Linked DNA regions of Homo sapiens: all the other regions are linked to region 3. Evidence: fine-mapped expression QTL. A gene starts in region 3. Each other region holds a variant in brackets. All regions are shown on one strand. Distances are from middle to middle.

Region 1 (7,153 bases), 28 kb before region 3:
GCACAAGCATTAAAGAACCTATAAAATCTGCTAACATGATTCGAATATTTATAAATTATTGGGTAACCAGTTTTCAGAACTATTTCTGAGTACAGCTTGCTTATAAAGAAAAACATTCATTGACCTGTTAACGACTGTATTACATGATCTAAATAATGCAAGAAAGTTAAGCCCTGAAGAGGCAGAAAACCTGTATAAAGGTAGATTATAAAACAAAGGAAAGAGTACCACATATGGCTGGACAACGGTATTTGATACTAGCAATAAAGTAGTGCCAAACTTTAGGTTACTGACTCTTGAAATATTATAAAATTAAAAATGTCAGAAATAAAATAATAAAGCATTTCAACAATTCATTGGCACAATTTATTTTAGTTCTATTCCAATGAAAAATTTAAATATATTTTTAACATCAAAATGGAATTTAACATGTAGGTTCAATTACAGTATATAAGTAATACCGATTTACTCAATGATCACTCTGATTTTACACTCTTTCAATACTTAAAACATTTCAATTCCTAAAAGAAGAAATCATAAATTACTGACCAAATTTTTCTTTTGTTTTGGTAGGTTAACTGGTTCAAAAATGGAGATAACATTTCCATAAGACGCTGCAATCTTTTAAAAAGAAAAAAAGAATTTATTAGGGATATGTTAACTTACTTATGAATCAAAAAAAGCAAAGAAATGAATACTATAACTTTAAATATGCCAATACACACAATTTCATTCACTGATGCTTAAGAATGTCAGTTTTGAAGACTATCACATCTGCATTAGAATCCTAGAACTGCAACTTACTACGTTAACTAGCAACTTAATCTCTCCAAACGTTAGTTTCCATTACAGTGTTCATAATATGTACAACACTACCTTCCTAACAGCATTGAGGGTTGAAATAACATTTGTAAAACACCTAACATATAATAAGTGACATACAATATGCACAGTAAATGTTAATTGTCGTCATCCATCCTCTAAATTGACAATTCTGTCAGTGTACATTAACTTTTCAAAAATATAACTTAGGTCTATTCCTCTGGAAACTCCCTGAGTACATTTTAAAACATATTCTATTTTATCCTTTGAATTTACTCTTTAAATTGATGGATCATAACCTTTCCTGGCTCTGTTTTATAAGGTAACTACTACTATAACTTGAGTGAGTCTCATATAAAGAACATCAAAATATTGGAAATCAAACAGAGAGAGAGATTAAATGAATGAATCAGGGATAGAAAAAAAAACATATGATGTAGTAAAGAGAAGGTAAGAAATGAGGACACAACAAACATGGAGAAAAAACTGTGAATGGATATTTTAAGGCTTCTGAATTCTTAGGATATAGATATCACTTGTGCTGCATTGATCTGGAGGAAGTGTTTAGTTTGGGCCTTTAATTATGGGTGGGATTTCAAAAAGCAGTGAGTATTCAACTTTATAAATAGGGCATAGTATGAAAACAGGTGTAAGGCCGGCCGCGGTGGCTCACGCCTGTAATCCCAGCACTTTGGGAGGCCGAGGCGGGAGGATCATGAGGTCAGGAGATCGAGTCCATCCTGGCTAACACGGTGAAACCCCGTCTTTACTAAAAAATACAAAAAAAAATTAGCCGGGCGATGGCAGGCGCCTGTAGTCCCAGCTACTCGGGAGGCTGAGGCAGGAGAATGGCGTGAACCCGGGAGGCGGAGCTTGCAGTGAGCCGAGTTCACGCCACTGCACTCCAGCCTGGGCGACAAAGTGAGACTCCGTCTCAAAAAAAAAAAAAAAAAAAAAAAAAAAGAAAACAGATGTAAAGATTAAAAGAGGCAATGTATGTTTAGAGGTGAATGACCACCATCCCACCAAGAAGAGAGTGCTCCTTATAACACAATAGTGTACCTGAGACTAAAAAGGCAGATCTGAGCCAGGTTGTAAAAGGCCTCACACCAAGGTGAACAATTTGAACTTTTCCAAGGTAATGGGCTAAGAATACTTTGAAGCTGATGAATAAAAGGATAAATGAGGATTAATTTTCTCAGAAAAATGAATTAGGTGGTAGTACAGTACAAAGAAAAAAACAGTAATAATAAAAATACAGGTGCCTATGACATTTCCTTCTTTTTTTTTTTTTTTATGAGACGGAGTCTCACACTGTTACCCAGGTTGAAATGCAGTGGCACGATCTCAGCTCACTGCAACCTCTGCCTCCCGGGTTCAAGCGATTCTCCTGCCTCAGCCTCCTGAGTAGCTGGGATTACAGACGCCCGCCACCACGCCCAGCTAATGTTTTTTTTTTTATTTTGTAGTAGAGACGGGGTTTCTCTATTTTGGCCAGAATGGTCTTGAACTCCTGACCTCATGATCCACCTGCCTCGGCTTCCCAAAGAACATTTCCTTCTTAAATGTAAACAGTCAGAAGTCCCCAGGTACCAGAACCTGCCAATTTTCTTCCTGATACTTTAAGGAACCACTATGATAATACTGATATCTGTAAATGAAGAAAATATTTCTTCATTAAATGATTATAAAACCAAATGACTTCTTAATTCCTCTTTTTGTTTTTCTTTGTAGAGATGGGGTCTTGCTTTGTCACCCAGGCTGCAGTGCAGTGGTGCCACCAGAGCTGACTGCAGCCTGGAACTCCTGGGCTCAAGTGATTCTCCCGCCTCAGCTTCCCGGGTAGCTAGGACTACAGGAGCATACTACCATGTCCGGCTATTTACTTATTATTTTTATTTTTGTAGAGACAGGGTTGCCCCAAGCTGGTCTCAAACTTCTGGTCTCAAGCGATTTGCCCACCTTGACCCTCCTAAAGCTCTGGGATTACAGGCATGAGCCACCACACATGGCCATGATTTCTTCATTCTAACCTGGACTGTCATATAGTCTATCACAAAAAGATAGCTCATATTGGAAAGTATTAAATTATATTTTTAACATTAACCAGCTCCATGTGAGTCCAGATGGTATTAAGCAAGTTTTTATACAGTTAAGAAAGATTACAGAACAAAAGAGCTAGAAGATCAAACAAACATGAAGAGAATGAAAATAAAAATCTCAAGGATAGGCTGGGCGCAGTGGCTCACGTAATCCCAGCACTTTGGGAGGCCAAGGAGGGCAAATCGCTAGGTCAGGAGATTGAAAC[C/T]AGACTTACCAACATGATGAAACCCCGTTTCTACTAAAAATACAAAAATTAGCCGGGTATGATGGCGAGCACCTGTAATTCCAGCTATTTGGGAGGCTGAGGCAGGAGAATTGCTTGAACCCGGAAGCCAGAGGCTGCAGTGAGCTGAGATTGCACCACTGCACTCCAGCCTGGGCAACAAAGCGAGACTCCATCTGAAAAACAAAAAACAAAACAAACAAACAAAAACAAACAAAAAACAAAAAAAAAACCCAAAGATTTCCAGCATTCCATAATAAAGATCATTTTTGTTGTACAGCGAGAAGTCATAAGAGGCCTCAACAAAAGATAGAGGACACCTGTAACTATATTAAAGGGAAGGAATACCATGTAACAAAAAGAACAGTAGTCCAACAAATATGTAAAGATTCAGAAAACAGAAACTCGTTTTATAATTAATATCTTTAAGTCCCAGATGGCAACTTTTAATCCTAGAAAGTTTACCTCAAATGAAGATTAGATTTAAAAACAAATGATTGGGTCCATGGACTCTTAATATGACCATTTTGATTCCTTACACAAAATGTTCTAGTGGAATCATATGAGTGTATTTGCGAAGTTCAGTCCAGTCTAGCTACAACTATATATAGGCCTTACCACCTATGCCTATATGGAGTTATTTTAAGCTATATATTATGCTGCCTTGCCTAGTAGTATGACTTTCTCATTCTGGTACTACAGGAACTGTATTTAACCTGATCTAGAAGAATTTTATACTTTGTTACTTTTGTTTATGTTGTTGCTATTTTACTTTCAAGGTTACCTTTCTACTTTTCATATGCAAATAGAAGTCCAGATAAAGTTTTTCACTTTTCTTATGGGCTTAGAATATTATAAACTCTCAAAGAGTTTTTCATTTCCACAAAAAGTTACACAGCCCTTGTTACATAGAAGTTACAAGGAGATAACTACCTGTTCACAGACAAAAAAAAAAAAATATTCTAAATCATTTCCTTTAGTTTATTTGTAAATATTGAAGATTCATTGTTACTCCTTTCCCCCAGTCCAATCACCTTTTAAATACGTAAGCTTTAGACTCATTCTATATCAGTAAGTATTGTATTTCTTTCTCAGAGAAGATGATGCTATAATTTAAAATTATATAAGAAGAGAATTTCTGGCACTCTATAGAATGCATCTTAGACAGCCAAAAATTCTTCTAGCTACACTATCTTTGAAACAAAGCCAAGTCTCTAATTCAATAGGAAATACACACTTCAGAGATTATCCTGACAAAAACCATATTCCAAACAAATTTGTATATTAGAAGAAGATTACAAACCTTGCCTTGTTGCATTGAACAGTCTACACATCCCACTTGAATATTTCCATGTTTAGCTCCTGGGATTATCTGTAATCTTTCAAAATCGCTTCCCAGTATTACAATGTCACATCCAGATGCATAAGCCTAAAAAAATAAATAAATAAAAATGATAAAAGTGTCAAGGAAACATTTACCATGTAGAATACTAGTATTAACTATCATGTTTTAAGGCAGGGAGAATAAATGTTTTAAAAGACCAATTTTAGGTGTTTTCTTAAAAAAAAAATCTACATTTGGCACTATTTCCCTTACCTCCCCATATACAGCCTATTAGCAAATTCTGTCAGTCCTTTCTGCAAAATATGCATCAACTCTGAACTCTGTCCACTTTTTTATTTTTTCTTTTGAGATGGAGTCTCACTCTGTCGCCCAGGCTGGAGTGCAGTGGCGCAATCTCGGCTCACTCCAAGTTCCGCCTCCCAGGTTCACGCCATTCTCCTGCCTCAATTTCCTGAGTAGCTGAGACTACAGGTGCCCACCACCACGCCCGGCTAGTTTTTTGTATTTTTAGTAGAGATGGGGTTTCACCGTGTTAGCCAGGATGGTCTTGATCTCCTGACCTCGTGATCCACCCGTCTCGGCCTCCCAAAGTGCTGGGATTACAGGCGTGAGCCACTGCGCCCGGCTCACTTTTTTCATCTCCAGTGAATGCTACCACCCTTGTCTAAACTGAACCATGATCATCTCTCTCCTATTCTACTAATAGCAAACTTCCATTCTTGCCTCCCTCTAATGCATTTCCACAAAGAGTGATATTTGAAGAATGTTTACTGCACCAAGTTATTTTCCCTGCTTAAACCCCTCAACAGTTTTCCACTGCACTTGGAATAAAATCTCAACACCTTACCATGGTCAATATCCTAAATGGTGGTCCTTCTATAAACCCATCTCAGGCTATTCTTTCCTTCTCTCAGCTGGCTCTTGTTTCTGTTCCTTTTTACATCTCAAGGTGTTTATCTGCCTTTTATCTGCCTGGTCTTTTCTAGTTAGCTGCTTTCCAGCATTCAGGCTACAATTCCCAACCACTATCTCTCCCATTACTTTCTATCACATTACTGTTTATTTTCTTCACGGCATATATCACAATTTTTAAATGTCTTTTGTCCCTATCTATTATTAAAAGTTAAATTCCAAAAAGGAAGGATTCAAGTTTATCTTGTTCTCTACTCTAGTCCTCAATTCTAACACAAGGGCCTAGAATGCAGCTAATAATTTATAAGTGGAATAAATGAAGCATTTAATTTCACAAAAACAGTCATCACAACAAAAGAAAGTATACATAGCTCAAGACTTGTTGCCAAGCATTTCATAGCTCTTTTTCAATTTTACAACAGTTAGCATAACTCTCCCAACTAGAACTCTTCTTTTGTGTGTCCTTTTCCCTACCACCTTCTTTGATCACGGGAGTTTTTTCCATTACAGGGTACATGGTTGTTCTCCTAGGATTCATATTATAGACTGGCACACGTTACAACAATAAGACATCTAACACAAACTGTTTTCCAACCTGAGTTCATAAAGTTTTTATCAACTCTCTACTTGCTCCTCATTTTTGCACACGCACATATATTTAAAAATTATACTTCAGGCTGGGCATGGTGGCTCATGCCTGTAATCCCAGCACTTTGGCAGGCTGAGGCAGGCGGATCACCTGAGGTCTGGAGTTCAAGACCAGCCTGACCTACATGCAGAAACCCCGTCTCTACTAAAAATACAAAATTAGCCGGGCATGGTCGTGCATGCCTGTAATCTCAGCTACTTGGGAGGCTGAGGCAGGAGAATCGCTTGAACCCGGGAGGTGGAGATTGCAGCAAGCTGAGATCGCGCCACTGCACTCCAGCCTAGGCAACAAGAGCAAAACTCCATCTCAAAAAAAAAAAAAAAATTATACTTCATATACACCTTAATTCCTACCAAAACCAAAATTATTCTGTATACTCTATCAAAAAATATTAAAAATGGGACTTGAGAGAACATACAAATGAATGTGCTATATGGAAAAGAAAATCAAGGCCCAAATAAGTTGATAACATCTTAGTGGCAGAGTGGGGCTTCAGAACCTGATCTCTTGATTTTTGGTCTCCTGCTATTTCCATGGTACCAACAGGGGCTTCCCTAGTTAACATGCTTGCCTGGAATTTTACCTAAAAATTAGAAAGAATAATCAATTATGATTCCACTAGTTTCACAAAGTGAAAAGAACTGGCTCAAACAAACAAAAAAATCACATGATGATCTCCTCTCCTATATAAATATCCATGATGGGATCATAAGGCTTGTCATAAGACCATTAGCAAGAATAAATTCCAAAGGCTAATTTTAAGAGAAGTTGTCTTTCAAATAATTTAGAAACTAATTTTTCTCCTTGATATTAAATTTTGAGAATACTGATTGTCACTGTTTCTCAAAATATTGTGTTGAATTTTACATGTTTACAATTTAGATTTGCTCCCTTCTAAACAACATTTTCAGTTTCCTTTCAGTGGAATAAAAAAACTCATGTCTTCACAACTTCACCTTTGTTGTACCTGAAATTATCTACCTAATTTCAGATATTACGTTGCAAGTATTTTGTCAAACATGACCCAAAATTTTCCCACATCAAGTCTATACTAATTTTGAAGCCCACACAAATTACTACTTAATACAAATATTACACT
Region 2 (7,153 bases), 180 kb before region 3:
CTTGAATAGCTTCACTTGCCATGTCTTTAAATTCTCTGATCTTCTCTTCAAAAGTGTTTTAGAATTAAGCCCATCCAGTGAATTACTTCAGATATTGTATTTTTCATCTCTAAAAGTTCAACATAGTTCTACCATCTGCTTTCATTACATTAATGTTTTTCCTCAGATCTTGTGCATACTTACAATAGCTGTTTTACAGCCCTTTTCTATTAATTCCATTATGTGTCATTTCTGAGTCTTTTTTCTTTTATGCTTTTATTGTTTTTAATTGACACAATTATACATACTGATTTTTCCCCTCATATCTTGTGTCATTTTTTTTATTTCCTTAAGTTGGACTTCACATTTCTCTGGTGACTCCTTGATTAGCTTAATAATTGACCTTCTGAATTCTTTTTCTGGCAATTCAGGGATTTCGTCTTGGTTTGGATCCATTGCTGGTGAGCTAGTGTGATTTTTGGGGGGTGTTGACGAAACTTAATTTGTCACATTACAATTGTTTTTCTGTTTCCTTCTCATTTGGGTAGGCTATGTCAGAGGGAAAATCTGGGGCTCAAGGCTGCCATTCAGGTTCTTTTGTCCCATGAGGTGCTCCCTTGATGTAGTACTCTCCCCCTTTTCCTAGGGATGTGGCTTCCTGAGAGCCAAATTGTAGTAATTGTTATTTCTCTTCTGGATCTAGCCACTCAGCAGGGCTGCCAGGCTCTGGGCTGCTACTGGGGGGTGTCTGCACAGAGTCCTGTGATGTGAATCATCTTCAGGTCTGTCAGCCATGGATACCAGTACCTGCTTTTGTAGAGGTGGCAGATGAGTGAAATGGACTCTGAGTGTCTTTAGTTGTAGTTGTTTAATGCACTAGTTTTCTGCTGGTTGACCTCTTACCAGGAGGTGGTGCTATCTATCAAAAGAGCATCAGCTGTGGTAGTATGGAGGAGGATCAGCCAGTGGGCAGGGCCCTGGAACTCCCAAGAGAATATGACCTTTGTCTTTAGCTACCAGGTTGGGTAGGGAAGGACCATCAGGTAAGGGCAGGGTTAGGCGTGTCTGAGTTCAGACTCTCCTTGGGCGGGGCTTGCTGTGGTGGCTGTTGGGGATGGGGGTGTGGCTCCCAGGTCAATGGAGTTATGTTCCCAGGAGGATTATGGCTGTCTCTGCTGTGTCATGCAGGTTGTCAGGGAAGTGTGGGAAAGCTGGCAGTTACAGGCCTCACCCAGCTCCCATGTAATTGAAAAGGCTGATCTCACTCTCACCATGCCCCCCAACCAACAGCACCTAGTTGGTTTCCAGGCAGTGGGCAAGCAGGGCTGAGAACTTGCCCCAGGCTACCAGCCTCCTGGCTGAGGAAGCAAGCAGGGCTTTCACTCCTCCCCGCCTATCGGTCTGCACACTGGATTCACACCATCCCCAGAGTTCTGGCCAGGAGACTTTGTGTTTAGTTGGAATTGTTACAAAGTTCAGCTGGAGGTTTCTTTCTCCCTGTGGTCTTTTCCCTGTTCCTCTGGCGTACCTCCCCAAGGATCCCTGAGAGAAAAGTCAGAAATGGCTTTCGTGGGGACCCAGAGAGCCCACAGGGCTTTTCCCACTGCTTCCTCTACCCATGTAATTTGCTTGGCTTTCTAAATTGTCTCAGCTCCTGGTAAGTCAAATCCTTCTCCTATGACCTGAACCTTCAGGTTCCCCAGTGAGGGTATGTGTTCAGGGGCAGATGATCCCTCTTTCCCACTTTCACAGTTTGGGCACTCACAGTATTTGGGCTATCTCCTGGGTCCTGCAGGAGCAATCCACTTCCTTCAAAGGGTCTGTGGATTCGCTCATCTTTCCTGGTATATTCCTGCAGTAGTTCTTGGAGCAAGAGTTCACAATGTGTCTCCACCCAATGCTCTGTATGAGTGGGAGCTGTGATTTAGTCCTGCCTCCTATCCGTTTTTGTTTTGTTTTGTTTTGTTTTTTGGTGTCCAAAGTATTGATGGGAGTTGCTACCATCCTCATTCCTACCTCCTTATTGAAAGGAGAAGTTCCTCCTGGTTTTCAGCTAATCCTAGTTGGGGAATGGGGTGGTAGAGGCCCAATGTTTTCTTCTGTTTTCTAGGTGGCCATCTGTTTCTGTTCCCATCCAGATTTATGTTACTCCTCTGAGACACTTTGGAACTCTCCGTTTTATTTTTGTTTGTTGTTTTTAAAATGTTGTGTTTTCTTTTGAGACAGGATCTCACTGTTGTCCAGGCTGGAGTACAGTGGTGCAATCATAGCTCACTGTGATACACCTCAAACTCCTGGGCAATACTCCTATCTCAGCCTCCCTAGTAGCTAGGACTACAGGAATGCACCACCCACATCCAGCTAATTTTTAAGTAATTTTTTGTAGAGATGGAGTCTTGCTATGTTGCCTAGGCTGGTCTCAAACTCCTGGCTTCAAGGGATCCTTTCACTTCATCTTCCCAAAGTAGTGGGATTACAGACATGAGCCACCATGCCCAGATTAAATTGTAGTTTTCATCGTTTTGGTTGTCATTGTGAGAGAGACAAGTGCCAGAACTTCTAGTCTGCCATGTTTTCTGCTTTTTTTTTTTTTTTTTTTTGAGACGGAGTCTTGCTCTGTCTCCCAGGCTGGAGTGCAGTGGCGTGATCTCTGCTCACTGCAAACTCTGCCTCCCAGGTTCCTGCCATTCTCCTGCCTCAGCCTCCCGAGTAGCTGGGACTACAGGCGCCTGCCACTGTGCCCAGCTAATTTTTTTGTATTTTTTAGTAGAGACGGGGTTTCACCGTGTTAGCCAGGATGGTCTCGATCTCCTGACCTTGTGATCCACCCGCCTTGGCCTCCCAAAGTGCTGGGATTACAGGCGTGAGCCACTGCACCCGGCCCATGTTTTCTGTTTCTATTGACTGATATTTCTCTCGTATGAGTCACATTTTTCAGCTTCTGTTCCTGTCTGGTAATTTTTGATGGGGTGCTGACATTGTCCCAAGCAATTTCAAAGAACAGCAGGGAAAATTCCATTCAGCTTCAAGGCCTGAGAATAACCCTGTGATTCAAAGCTCTGCTCTCTGGGCTTGCAACTCCTGGCTCTGCACCCAGAGTTCTGCCTTCCCATAAACATTGCATATTTTTCTGTGTTCTATATCTATTATTTTCTCTACAACAATTTTTTACTTCATTTTTTGGCTCATTTAATTTCTATTCTCTCTGTTACATGTGTGCTTTCAGTCATATCTCTTCTCCCTTGGGCCATCTCTAATTTAGCCTTGATTTATGAGATAATTTTGCTGTTTTCATTCCTGAGTAAATGCAGGTCCTGTAAATGCAGCCTGGGCAAGAGTGAGACCC[T/C]GTCGATCAATTAGTAAGTTAGACTATTTTGAATTACTGCTTTCCTCTGTTTCATGAAATTATTGAGGGTGGTTTATATTTTTATGTTTGAGACTGTCTCACTCTATCACCCAGGCTGGAGTGCAGTGGCACAATCATGGCTCACTGCAGCCTTGGTCTCCTCAGGCTCAGGTAATCCTTTCATCTCAGCCTCCTGAGTAGCTGGGACTACAGGAACGTGACACCATGCATGACTAATTTTTCTATTTTTTTTTTCTTTTGTAGAAGGGGTTTCACCATGTTTCCCAGACTGGTCTTGAACTCCTGGACTCAAGCAATCCTCCCACTTTGACCTCTCAAAGTGCTGGGATTACAGACATGAGCCACCCCTCCTCCCCTGCTTTTTTTGAGACATGGTCTCACTTTGGACCCAGACTGAAGTAGTGGTATGATCACTACTCACTGCAGCCTCAACCTCCCCAGCTCAGACAATCCTCCTGCCTCAAGTAGCTGGGACCACAAGAATGTGCTACCATGCCCGGCTAATTTTTAAATTATTTGTAGAGATGGGGGTCTTCCTATGTTGCCCAGGCTGGTCTTGAACTCTTAGGCTCAAGCAATCCTCTTGCCTGGGCCTTCCAGTGCTGGGATTACAGGAACTGGCCACTGCACCTGGCCTAGCGTGTTTTTGTATGTTCAAAGAAACGTTTTGAGAGTAAATTTGTGTGGATTTTTTTTTCACATGTGGTATAAACTATTCACGTTACAATAGTAAACAATCTTATGGACAAGTGTAGGGGGGCTGTTTTTTTCATTCAGGAGCACAGTGCTTTATTTGTAAAATAAATCACGATTTCCTTTAAAAAAATCACACACCTTTATGGAGGATATTTTTGGATTCTTTGATATCTTGTTAAACGACACTTACCTTCATTTACTTCCTTCTCTCCCTTCACCAATAAGCCTCCAAAGGACATCAGTTCCTCTGAAGATGGCCTATTTCAGAACTAATTTCCCAAAATATTCACACCTAATCACATACAATTTCCAACTCTATTTTTCAGTAGCCAGTTATTTGTTCTATTTCACCATTCAGAATGAGACCCTCTCCTTCTAAACTCCAGTTCATATTGTGTCAGTACCAGTAGAATCCTGCACTCTTCTATGTACCCCTTTTCCAATCATTTTCTGCTACAGTGTGGGGTCTGGGAGACTCAGATATTTATTTCCTAAATTATATGTAATTTAAAGGTTGCTGTCTTCTCTGCCATCTAATATGCTTAGGTATGGTATCTGAGTGATTTGTTCTTTTTGTTCTTTAAAGGGATTTGTGAAACAGTTGAAATTTAGATGACTGTCATTACTGTATAAGAATCTTGGGCTTCTGACTATGAGGTACAGGGCCATGGTGAATGCTTATATAACTTATTAGGGGGATGTGTTGGGGTGAAGTCTAGCCCTCGCTTCATTTGCTGTTTCTTGTGGAACTGCATTATCAGAAGATATGCCTCATTTGTAGGGCTACATCCATGTAACTTCATCTACACATGAAGTTTTCTTTAATGTAAACTCCAGATGGGGCATTCCCCCCCGTCATAAAACTTCTCATTAGGAAAAAGCCCTATGAGATCTTAACATACACTGCAAGTATTGTAGCTTGCTTAGTTATCTTCATGTCTGAATGGCCATAGTAATCTGATGCATTTTCTGCAAAACACAGAATGAAACAACCCAAATACAGACAACCAGATCCTATTTTAAGGAATTATCTTTGCTTGTGTTCAGAATAAACTGAAAAAAAAAAAAAAAAGGTATGGCTTCAGAAAACAAATATGCTGCAATTTCAGAAATGATGCTAAGAGTAGATTCCAAAGGATTTTTAAAACTTATTTAACGTATGTCCAGGGATACACCATACTGGCTGAGTTCTGTTACACAGGTCATACCTGTACATTGCATAGAAAATTGATTGTCCATGAATAAAGCATTTTTTCCACTGTGGAGTGAAATGTGTTGTCACACCAATTGTTTCTATTAGTCATCTGTATTTGCAGTGGAAGAACTTAAAAGTGTTTTTGTTCCAAGGACCCCTGTGAAACAATGTGACACTCTCAGTGTTAGTTCCTTGAGTAATGGACCATATATGTGCAATGACAGCCAAGCAGAAAGAAAAAACATCTTGAAAAGCTCAAAAACAGATTCAGCTTTGAAAATAACTGGACTGAAATCTACACACATTTCTAGAATACTAACAGGCACATTCAAATAATCTATGATCAACTTTTTCCAGGTACTCCAATGCAGCAATCCCCAACCCTTTTGGCACCAGGGACTGGTTTCGTGGGAAGACAGTTATTCCATGGAGCCAGATGGTTTCAGGATGATTCAAGCGCATTACACGTATTGTGCAGTTTATTATTACATTGTAATATATGATGAAATAATTATACAACTCACCATGACATAAAATCAGTGGGAGTCTTGAGCTTGTTTTCCTACAACTGGATGGTCCCATCTGGGGGTGATGGGAGACAGTGACAGATCATCAGGCATCACTCTCATAATGAGCACACAACCTAGATCCCTTGCATGCGCAGTTCACAGTAGGGTTCCTGCTCCTATGAGAATCGAATGCCTCCACTGATCTGACAGGAGGCGGAGCTCAGGTGGTAATGCAAGCAATGGGGAGCAGCTATAAATACACATGAAGCTTTGCCCAACACTCACCTCCTGCTGTGCAACCCGGTACCAGTTGTCACCCATGGGCTGGGGACTCCTGCTCCAAAGGGTAACATTTTAACATTCAGCTTAAATAAATTTCACCAAAAATATCTCAACAATTCAAAGAGGAGTGTTCCTGACACCAGATCACTTTATTCAACAGAGCAGCTCCCAAAGTCATGAAGTACTACTTGGTTTAAAAATAAAGCTGTTTTTCCCACGTACACACATTCAACAAAACTATCTTTGGTATTACTTTACTGAGTGAGGTTTAAAGGAGTTTGGGAAAATATTACAGCCTTCTTCCTTTTCCCAATGCTAAAAGTTTTGTGTATTTTTTCCACATGCATTTCTTTGTTCATATATATTTTAAAAAGTCTAAACAATTAGGATATTGTATCTTTTGCTCTGTAATTTTTTTTCCTCATCAGCCTCTTCTCAGGCCAACATATACATATCTAACATTCTTTTTAGTGGTGAGAGAATATTCTATAATATTACATGTATGTACCATAATTTATTCAACCATTTACTTGCTAATTAACATTTAGATTTCCAGTTTTTTTTTTTTTTTTTTTTTCATTTTTATTTTTTGAGACAGACTTTTGCTCTGTCACCCAGGCTGGAGTGCAGTGGCATGATCTCGGCTCACTGCAACCTCCACCTCCTGGGTTCAAGTGGTTCTCCTGCCTCAGCCTCCTGAGTAGCTGGGACTACAGGCACACAACCCCATACTCCACTAATTTTTGTATTTTTAGTAGAGATGGGTTTCACCATGTTGGCCAGGCTGGCCACAAACTCCTGACCTCAAGTGACCTGTGCTTGCTTCAGCCTCCTAAAGTGCTGAGATTACAGGTGTGAGCCAACACATCTGGCCTCTAGAATATGTTTCAATAAACATCTGTGTCCTTACATTTTTATGCATGGAAGCTTTTATTTTTATAATTTCTCAGAAGGTTGTTCACTGAAAGTTATGTGTATTTGATTTTAATTCACACCCAGATAACTTTGCCAGCAATGTTTCTGCCAATTTCCTTGCATCTTCACCAAAATGGATATTGTCACTATTTAACCTTAAACCAATCTGATAAAAACTAGTATTACAGTAATACTTTTTAAAAAACAATC
Region 3 (7,153 bases):
TCCACTTCAAGTAAAATGCAACTGAGGGATATTTTAGTCTTCACATACCATCTACCATTAATGTTTACTATTTTCCTATCAAAGAAAAGTCAAAATCAAAAAAGGTTAAAAACAACACTCAAGGCTGGGTGCAGTGGCTCCCGCCTGTAATCCCAGCACTTTGGGAGGCCAAGACTGGTGGATCACCTGAGGTCAGGAGCTCCAGACCAGCCTGACCAACATGGTGAAACCCCACCTCTACTAAAAAATACAAAATTAGCAGGGCATGGTGGCACATGCCTGTAATCCCAGCTTCTCAGGAGGCTGAGGCAGGAGAATCTCTTGAACACAGGAGGCGGAAGTTGCAGTGAGCTAAGATCGCGCCATTGCACTCCAGCCTGGGCAACGACAGCGAAACTCCGTCTCAAAAAAAAAAAACAACACAAAACAACTCAAGAAGTAAACAATAGATTCTGCCTTTTAACATGAGAGAAGAAAAAAGGGCGATTTCAAGAGAGAAAAATTTAAGGTGTATATAAGTGTCCAGGATAATGAGCGTAAGCAACTTAAAGAGTCAAGGATGAACAGGCTGCAAAGGAAAACCATGACTGTTAAATCCTTAAAATTCCATCAAAACTAAAGAGAGCTGAACTCTCTTTATACTTAAAAATTTATTTTTAGTTTATTTACTGAATGCTTCCAGAGACCTGGAAGAAATCTGCAGTAGGCTTGGTGGGAGATTAAATCCTACTCAATGGAAATGAACTTTAAAATTCAGCAGAACTGAGCAACAAGCTACATGATGGTACAGGATGACCATCTATCTAATCCTCCTCGGCACATTAACTGATCTCTCCTTAAAAACAATACACAGACATTCACCAAGGTTTTATAGAGGAATGCATCCAGGTATATAAATAGGCCATCATACTGCATATGCTTTGAAGTTCACACCACTGCTTACATAGATTGTGAATGCCTTCTTAGAAAAAATTCTTAGGGCTGGGCATGGTGGCTCACGCCTCTAATCCTAGCATTTTGGGAGGCTGAAGTGGGAGGATCACTTGAGCCCAGGAAGTCAAGACCAGCCTGGGCAACATAAGGAGACCCCTCTCTACAAAAAATAGAAAACTTAGCCAGCCGTGGTGATTAGAATCTGTAGTCCTAGCTCCTCAGGAGCCTAAGGTGGAAGGACGGCTTGTGCCGGGGAGGTCGAGGCTGCAGTGAGCTGTGATCCCGCCACTGCACTCCAGCCTAGGTGACAGAGGGAGACCTCATTTCAAAAGTTTTTAAAAAGCAAAAGTTCTTAGAATTTACACTGGAGAAAGCACTCATATAAATTTAGGAAATGACAGAGAATGCAACAATATTATCCTATAATTTCCCACTAGGAAAACCTTCTAAGGATGATGTTTACTTTCCTCTCAAGCAGCAAGAGCAGAGAGCAATGCCCAGGTGTAAGGAAACTATAGTTGCTCACTGGGACCCTCAGAGCTCACTCTTTTCCCAAGTATTCAGGCTGGGCAAACATTTAGAATTGGAATCCCGATAATTAAGATGTGTATGAGTCAATCTAAAGGGGAGGTACAGTCTCTATTTGAAAACAAAATGCTTCTTGGCACAATTCTAAAAGTACAATTCAGGCATTAAATGCCTCCACCATTTTAAATGCTGAGTATTATTTATTCTGACCAACAAAGACCACAGAAAAATTAAAAGCAGAGAAAAAGATTAGAAATTTAACACTCCTAAACCTGGGGCATTGGTTACGTTGTTTACTTTGTGTCACTTATACAAAATTAAGTTTTACTTTTATTTTTTTTAAAGAAAAAAGCCTACAGCACTTAGTATTCCCAGGCAGTGACAAGTTTTACTTTTAATCACAACTAAAGAGGTATCTACACAAATTGTAGCAAAAATCATTAGCATTATAAATTTATGTAGATAAAAGTATCATGTGCAATTACTGACTTATATTTTGAAATTGTTATTAAAAAAAAACCTATAGTTAAGGTAGAAAAATGCCACTATACTGACAAGTAGCCCGAAATTTGGTGCCCTCTTCTTGTCAATATGTGACCAATGAAAAGCAAGTTAAGCAACCTTAACCTGGGATTACCAGGTTATTGTAAAATATCCAAGAAATATTTTTAAAAATGAAAAGGCTTTTTTTTCTTTCCGAAGTTATTTCTCAGGGAATTAGAAAAGAAAATAAATGAAAAACACTGTTCTCAAGGCTAGTTGTTGATGGCAAACAATTGGTAATTGTTTTGAGACACCCACTTTTTAACTACAAAGATACTTGACCTTAACTTAGAATACAAAATGAAACCAATCTCCACTATTCCTAAATTTGACAATTTGAACCTATAGAATGGTATAAAAAAGCCCCCAACTCGTTACTCAACAAAGATTTTTGAACAAACGACTTTGGCAAAGCACCCTGGCCCAAGGCAGACAGACCAAAAACTTTAAAAATCCTACAAAATATTCTAACTTGAGTTCAGGCTCCATACAGTACCTCACTGACCGACATGGTTTTGCTTCCTTAGTTCTCAAGGGCCAGGTCTGCTGGGTTCTGGGTGGTAAGGACCCCCCTGGGGAGACAAGACCTCGCGCCTCTGCCCGTCGTTCTGGGCCAAGCTCGGCCCAGAATGACGGGCAAAGGCCGGGCCACGGGCGACGCGAGGGCCTCCCTCACTCACCGTGAAGCGCTGGTCGCCAATGCTGCCCACGGAGAAGCAGTGGTCGCCAGGGTTCACAGCCCCGGTCAGCACCTGGTGCAGGTTCATGTCGGCGCCCTAGTCCTGCAACGGACACCGCATCCAGCTCATGCCACGGGTCAGCGGCTGCTTCCCTCCCTCCTTCCCTCAGGGGCGGCGGCCGCTCTTCGGTGGCGACGGCAGAAGCAGCGACAGGCGCCTGGAGCCGGAGCCGCTCAGCTGGGGCCCGCGACTCATCCCGAGCCCCGGAGGGCGAGGCCCGGAGGGGGCGGGTCGGCGAGAGGGCGGAGCGCCGCGCTCCTTCGCGCACCTGTCACTCCCCGCGCTAGCCCAGGTGAAGCTCAGGGTCCCCTCACCGGCCACGACCCGGGGCCGACTCACCGGCCAGGAAGGCCGCGCTGTCCACACACTTCCTCTGGACCTCGGGCAGCCGCTCCTGACCCAGCCCGAGTGGCGCAAGCAGTACGCGCTCGCACTCCCCGCCTGACCTGTCCCTTCCCGGCTCCGGTGCCCGCCACCCCCACAGTCCTCCGCCACTCACTACGCGCCTCTGGATCCCTGCGGCCGAAATATCGCGAGACTTCGCTCGGGGCAGCTGCTACTGTGGTAAAGAATTCACTTTTTTACCACAGCGTGCGTATCAGCAAGTGAACATAAAAACGCCTCTTCTAGTCAGAAACTGGCCAATCCCGACCCCCGGTCCACCTAGGGCTCCGCCCACCACCGAGAATAAGCCAATCTCTTTGAGGCTTCTACAGGAGAACGCCGTGCGTTTGAGCTTGAACCTGATAAGCCTGGCAGAAGCCTGATGAACCCAGAATGAGTGAGATGTGGTAAGTTGTGCTTTAGGTTAGGGCGTCATCTAACTGTTGGGCCAGAAAATTTAAAGGGGAGAAGTGCATCCTAAAGGGAGTTGCAGTTTCCTCGGTTCTGGTAGGACTACAAGTCCCAATATGCACCGCTCCCCCGGGCGACCTGAGTGTCTCTTGAGTAAATGTGACCCTTGAAACGTCTACGTTAGCAGCTTAATGGTTTCTCCAGCCTTGCGCGTGTTTCCAAGTCCCTAAACGGGATGGTTTTTGAAAGGCTCGAACACTTGACAAGTAGGAAAGTGGTATTTTCTTAGCCTAAGTTATCTTAACACGTGATTTGAAATAGTGCTGGTAATAACAACACACCAGCCCTGCATTGAGCGTTTGTTTTGGAAAAGAACCTAGGAATTCCAGAATGATCAGAGTCACAGCTACAAACTGAGATTCAACTCTCATTGTATTTTGACACAAGTTTTGTATTATAATTGACAAACATCTGTTTATATGTCTCCCCCTGTATACCGTAAGCCTCTTTGGAATACAGAGGAACAGGACACAAGTCTGTCCTTAATGTCTAGCACCGCACCAGTCCCACCCATTCAGGGTGTTCTGTAAATGTTGCATGAATGTGTATAGAAACTCTCCAAATAGGCCAGGCACGGTGACTCACGCCTATTATTCCAGAACTTTGGGAGGCCGAGGAGGGTGAATCACGAGGTCAGGAGTTCGAGACCAGCCTGGCCAACATAGTGAAACCCCCTTCTCTACTAAAAATACAAAAATTAGCCGGGCGTGGTGGCTCCCACCTGTAATCCCAGCTACTCGGGAGGTTGAGGCAGGAGAATCACTTGAACCCGGGAGGCAGAGGTTGTAGTGAGCCAAGACCCCCGTTGCACTCCAGCCTGGGTGACAGAGTGAGATCCCGTCTCAAAACAAACAACCCTCAAAACTCTCCAATAGGCCAGGCACGATGGCTCACGCCTGTAATCCCAGCACTTTGGTAAGTCGAGGTGGGGGCGGGGGGATCACCTGAGGTTGGGAGTTCGAGACCAGCCTGGCTAACATTGTGAAACCCAGTTTCTACTAAAAATTAAAAAATTAGCCTGGCATGGTGGCACGCGCCTGTAATCCCAGCTACTGGGAAGCTGAGGCGAGAGAATCGCTTGAACCTGGGAGACGGAGGTTGCAGTGAGCCAAGATCGTGTCATTGCACTCCAGCTTGGGCAACAAGAGAGAAAGTCAAAAAAAAAAAAAAAAAAGAGAGAAAAGAAAATAAAGAAACTCCCCCTTTTGTTGTAGTATGAAGACTTCAAACTATAATAATACTAGGGTGGGACGAGTACTAGTAAATTTATTTCCTTTTATTTTTACTACATTTTTTGCAATGTACATTTACTTTGTCTGACAATAAAAAGCTACTTACGAGATACTTTTTAGTTCATAAGTGGGATGATTGTGTGTTCACACTTGTGTGAGACGTCCCTCCCTCAAACCTTGTTGCGCCATCATCTGCACATTACCCATCTGATGTGGGGAAAAAAAAAAAACCCGAAACTTATTTAAAAAATGAATTTCATTATGTATTCCAGGCTTTTCATAAGATAAGGGACAAAACTTAATTTGTCTTTTTTTAAAATATACTTATTTTTTGAGGTCTAACATACCTACAGTTTGTCTTTTATTATTTCAAATTATACTTCAAGTGCTTTTTAATTTTATATTTTAGACCCAGAACCAGGATTGTTGTACTTGTGTGGCTCCCACATAAATTCTGTGGCTGGTTCATAATTTAACATGTTTACTCATTCTATTTTGCCCATTTGTTAGTTTTGAAGAGCATTCCACGTATTAGAATAAAACTGAGCAACAAGATGCGGGGCGCGGTGGCTCACGCCTGTAATCCCAGCACTTTGGGAGGCCAAGGCGGGCAGATCATGAGGTCAGGAGATCAAGACCGTCCTGGCTAACACAGTGAAACCCCGTCTCTACAGAAAATACAGAAAAAAAAATTAGCCAGGCGTGGTGGCGGGCACCTATAGTCCCAGCTATTTAGGAGGCTGAGGCAGGAGAATGGCGTGAACCCGGGAGGCGGAGCTTGCAGTGAGCAGAGCTTGCGCCACTGCACTCCAGCCTGGGCGACAGAGCAAGACTCCATCCCAAAAACAAAACAAAACAAAACAAAAAACAACAAACAAACAAAATTCCCTTTGCCTCCAAGATGCTGCCCCTCACAGATCATCTCCTAATGTCATAAAATTCCCCTACTAAGGTTCTGTCGAATCCTAAATCTATTCCTGATTTATTGTGCAACTTTGACATGACTCTGACCTTATGGGAAGATTAATAAGAAGGTGGAGGAGGTGAAAGTAAATTTTAGGTTGTTTGCCCCTCATCCTCCTGTTCCTGTTTCCTTACTGCGGGTCTAGAAGGCAGCACTGCATGCCTCCATTCCACTTGCTCAAAGTCTCCACATTCCTTCTACCAAAGGCTCACAAATCAACCTGCTAATCCAAGAAATCCAGGAGAAGGGCCTGGTGCAGTGGTTAACACCTGCAATCCCAGCGCTTTGGGAGGCTGAGGCAGGAAGATCCCTGAACTCAGGAGTTCCAGGTTGCAGTGAACTATGATCACGCCACTGTACTCTAACCTGGGCGATAGACCTTGTCTTAAAAAAAAAAAAAAAATCCCGGAGAATTATTGAGTCTAATTATCCCCTCAACTATAATTGAATTATATCCTTCCATCCTTTGAATGCTCACTGACTGTGTGCTTTGGTGGTTTTCTTTTTTAGTTTCTAAAAAAAAATAAGAGAGAAAGGATGGCTCTACAAAAAAAAAAAAAAAAAAGTCTTGCTGTATGCAGCGCCAGTAGTCCCAGTTACCCAAGAGGCTAAGGCAGGAGAATCGTTGAGAGTCCAGGAGTTCAAGTCCAGTCTAGGTAAAATAGATCACGTCTCTTAAAAACCAAATAAAAAATTAAAAATAAAATAAAGGAAGTCTTTTATTGTATAGTTTGCATTATTACTAGCAGCAAGATGTCTTACATAACCGACGTGCCATGTGGTTTCTGAGATTGGCAGGCCAAAGATAAGTTTTGGTTTTCAATGCTAGTCTTCAAGAGGAGGGGGAATTTTTTTTTTTTTTTTTGGGACAGAGTCTTGCTCTGTCACCCAGGCTGGAGAGCAGTGGCGCGATCTCAAGAAGAGGGGGAATTTTATAAGAGTCAGTGGGTGGTGATAGTTTAAAGAAACCCAAGCAGGCCAAATTCTGAGATTCTTGGAAAGAAAAGGAGCATATAGGAAGCTAGCTCAGATTGGGAAATAATCATGCCTCTTGCCCACTCTTGATTTCTTGAAATCCTTGTCATTACCCTCCTCCCCCACCCCAAATAGACCAATCTAAATCCCTATTCTTGGCCGGGGGCAGTGGCTCACATCTGTAATCCCAGCACTTTGGGAGGCCCAGGCGGGCGGATCACCTGAGGTCCAGCGACCAACATGGCAAAACCCTGTCTTACTAAAAAATACAAAAATTAGGGCTGGGGGCGGTGGCTCATGCCTGTAATCCCAGCACTTTGGGAGGCCGAGGCAGATGGATCATGAGGTCAGGAGTTTGAGACCAGCCCGGCCAACGCAGTAAA

Direction of the effects. Alleles are on the strand shown, and positions count from the first base shown. SD is a standard deviation of normalised expression in the study named. Not every link is listed here.
For the expression in tibial nerve of the gene that starts at base 3,254 in region 3, T is the high allele of the variant in region 1 and C is the other (moderate effect, 0.46 SD a copy in GTEx).

What was found.
Region 1: its variant is fine-mapped to the expression of DMXL1 in tibial nerve (GTEx, PIP above 0.99). The same link has a PIP of 0.9 or more in aorta.
Region 2: its variant is fine-mapped to the expression of DMXL1 in whole blood (INTERVAL, PIP above 0.99). The same link has a PIP of 0.9 or more in blood mononuclear cells.

Annotation. Positions count from the first base shown.
Region 1 is chr5:119,095,403-119,102,555 of GRCh38, reverse strand. DMXL1 (Dmx like 1) reads right to left here. Exons shown (of 44, transcript NM_001290321.3): 2 at 4,452-4,577; 3 at 550-621. Among named protein-coding and RNA genes, the nearest start is that of DMXL1, 28 kb to the right of the region's middle. The variant C/T (reference allele first, on the strand shown) is at 3,131.
Region 2 is chr5:119,249,963-119,257,115 of GRCh38, reverse strand. No RefSeq gene overlaps it. Among named protein-coding and RNA genes, the nearest start is that of MIR5706, 99 kb to the right of the region's middle. RefSeq lists an enhancer at 808-1,364. The variant T/C (reference allele first, on the strand shown) is at 3,326.
Region 3 is chr5:119,067,188-119,074,340 of GRCh38, reverse strand. It overlaps DMXL1 (Dmx like 1), which reads right to left and starts at 3,254. Exons shown (of 44, transcript NM_001290321.3): 1 at 2,685-3,254. The coding sequence starts at 2,771. DMXL1-DT (DMXL1 divergent transcript) reads left to right here and starts at 3,451. Exons shown (of 3, transcript NR_134250.1): 1 at 3,451-3,535. It overlaps LOC124901209 (small nucleolar RNA U13), which reads left to right and starts at 4,941; the gene lies at 4,941-5,044. RefSeq lists silencers at 2,818-3,097, 3,408-3,487.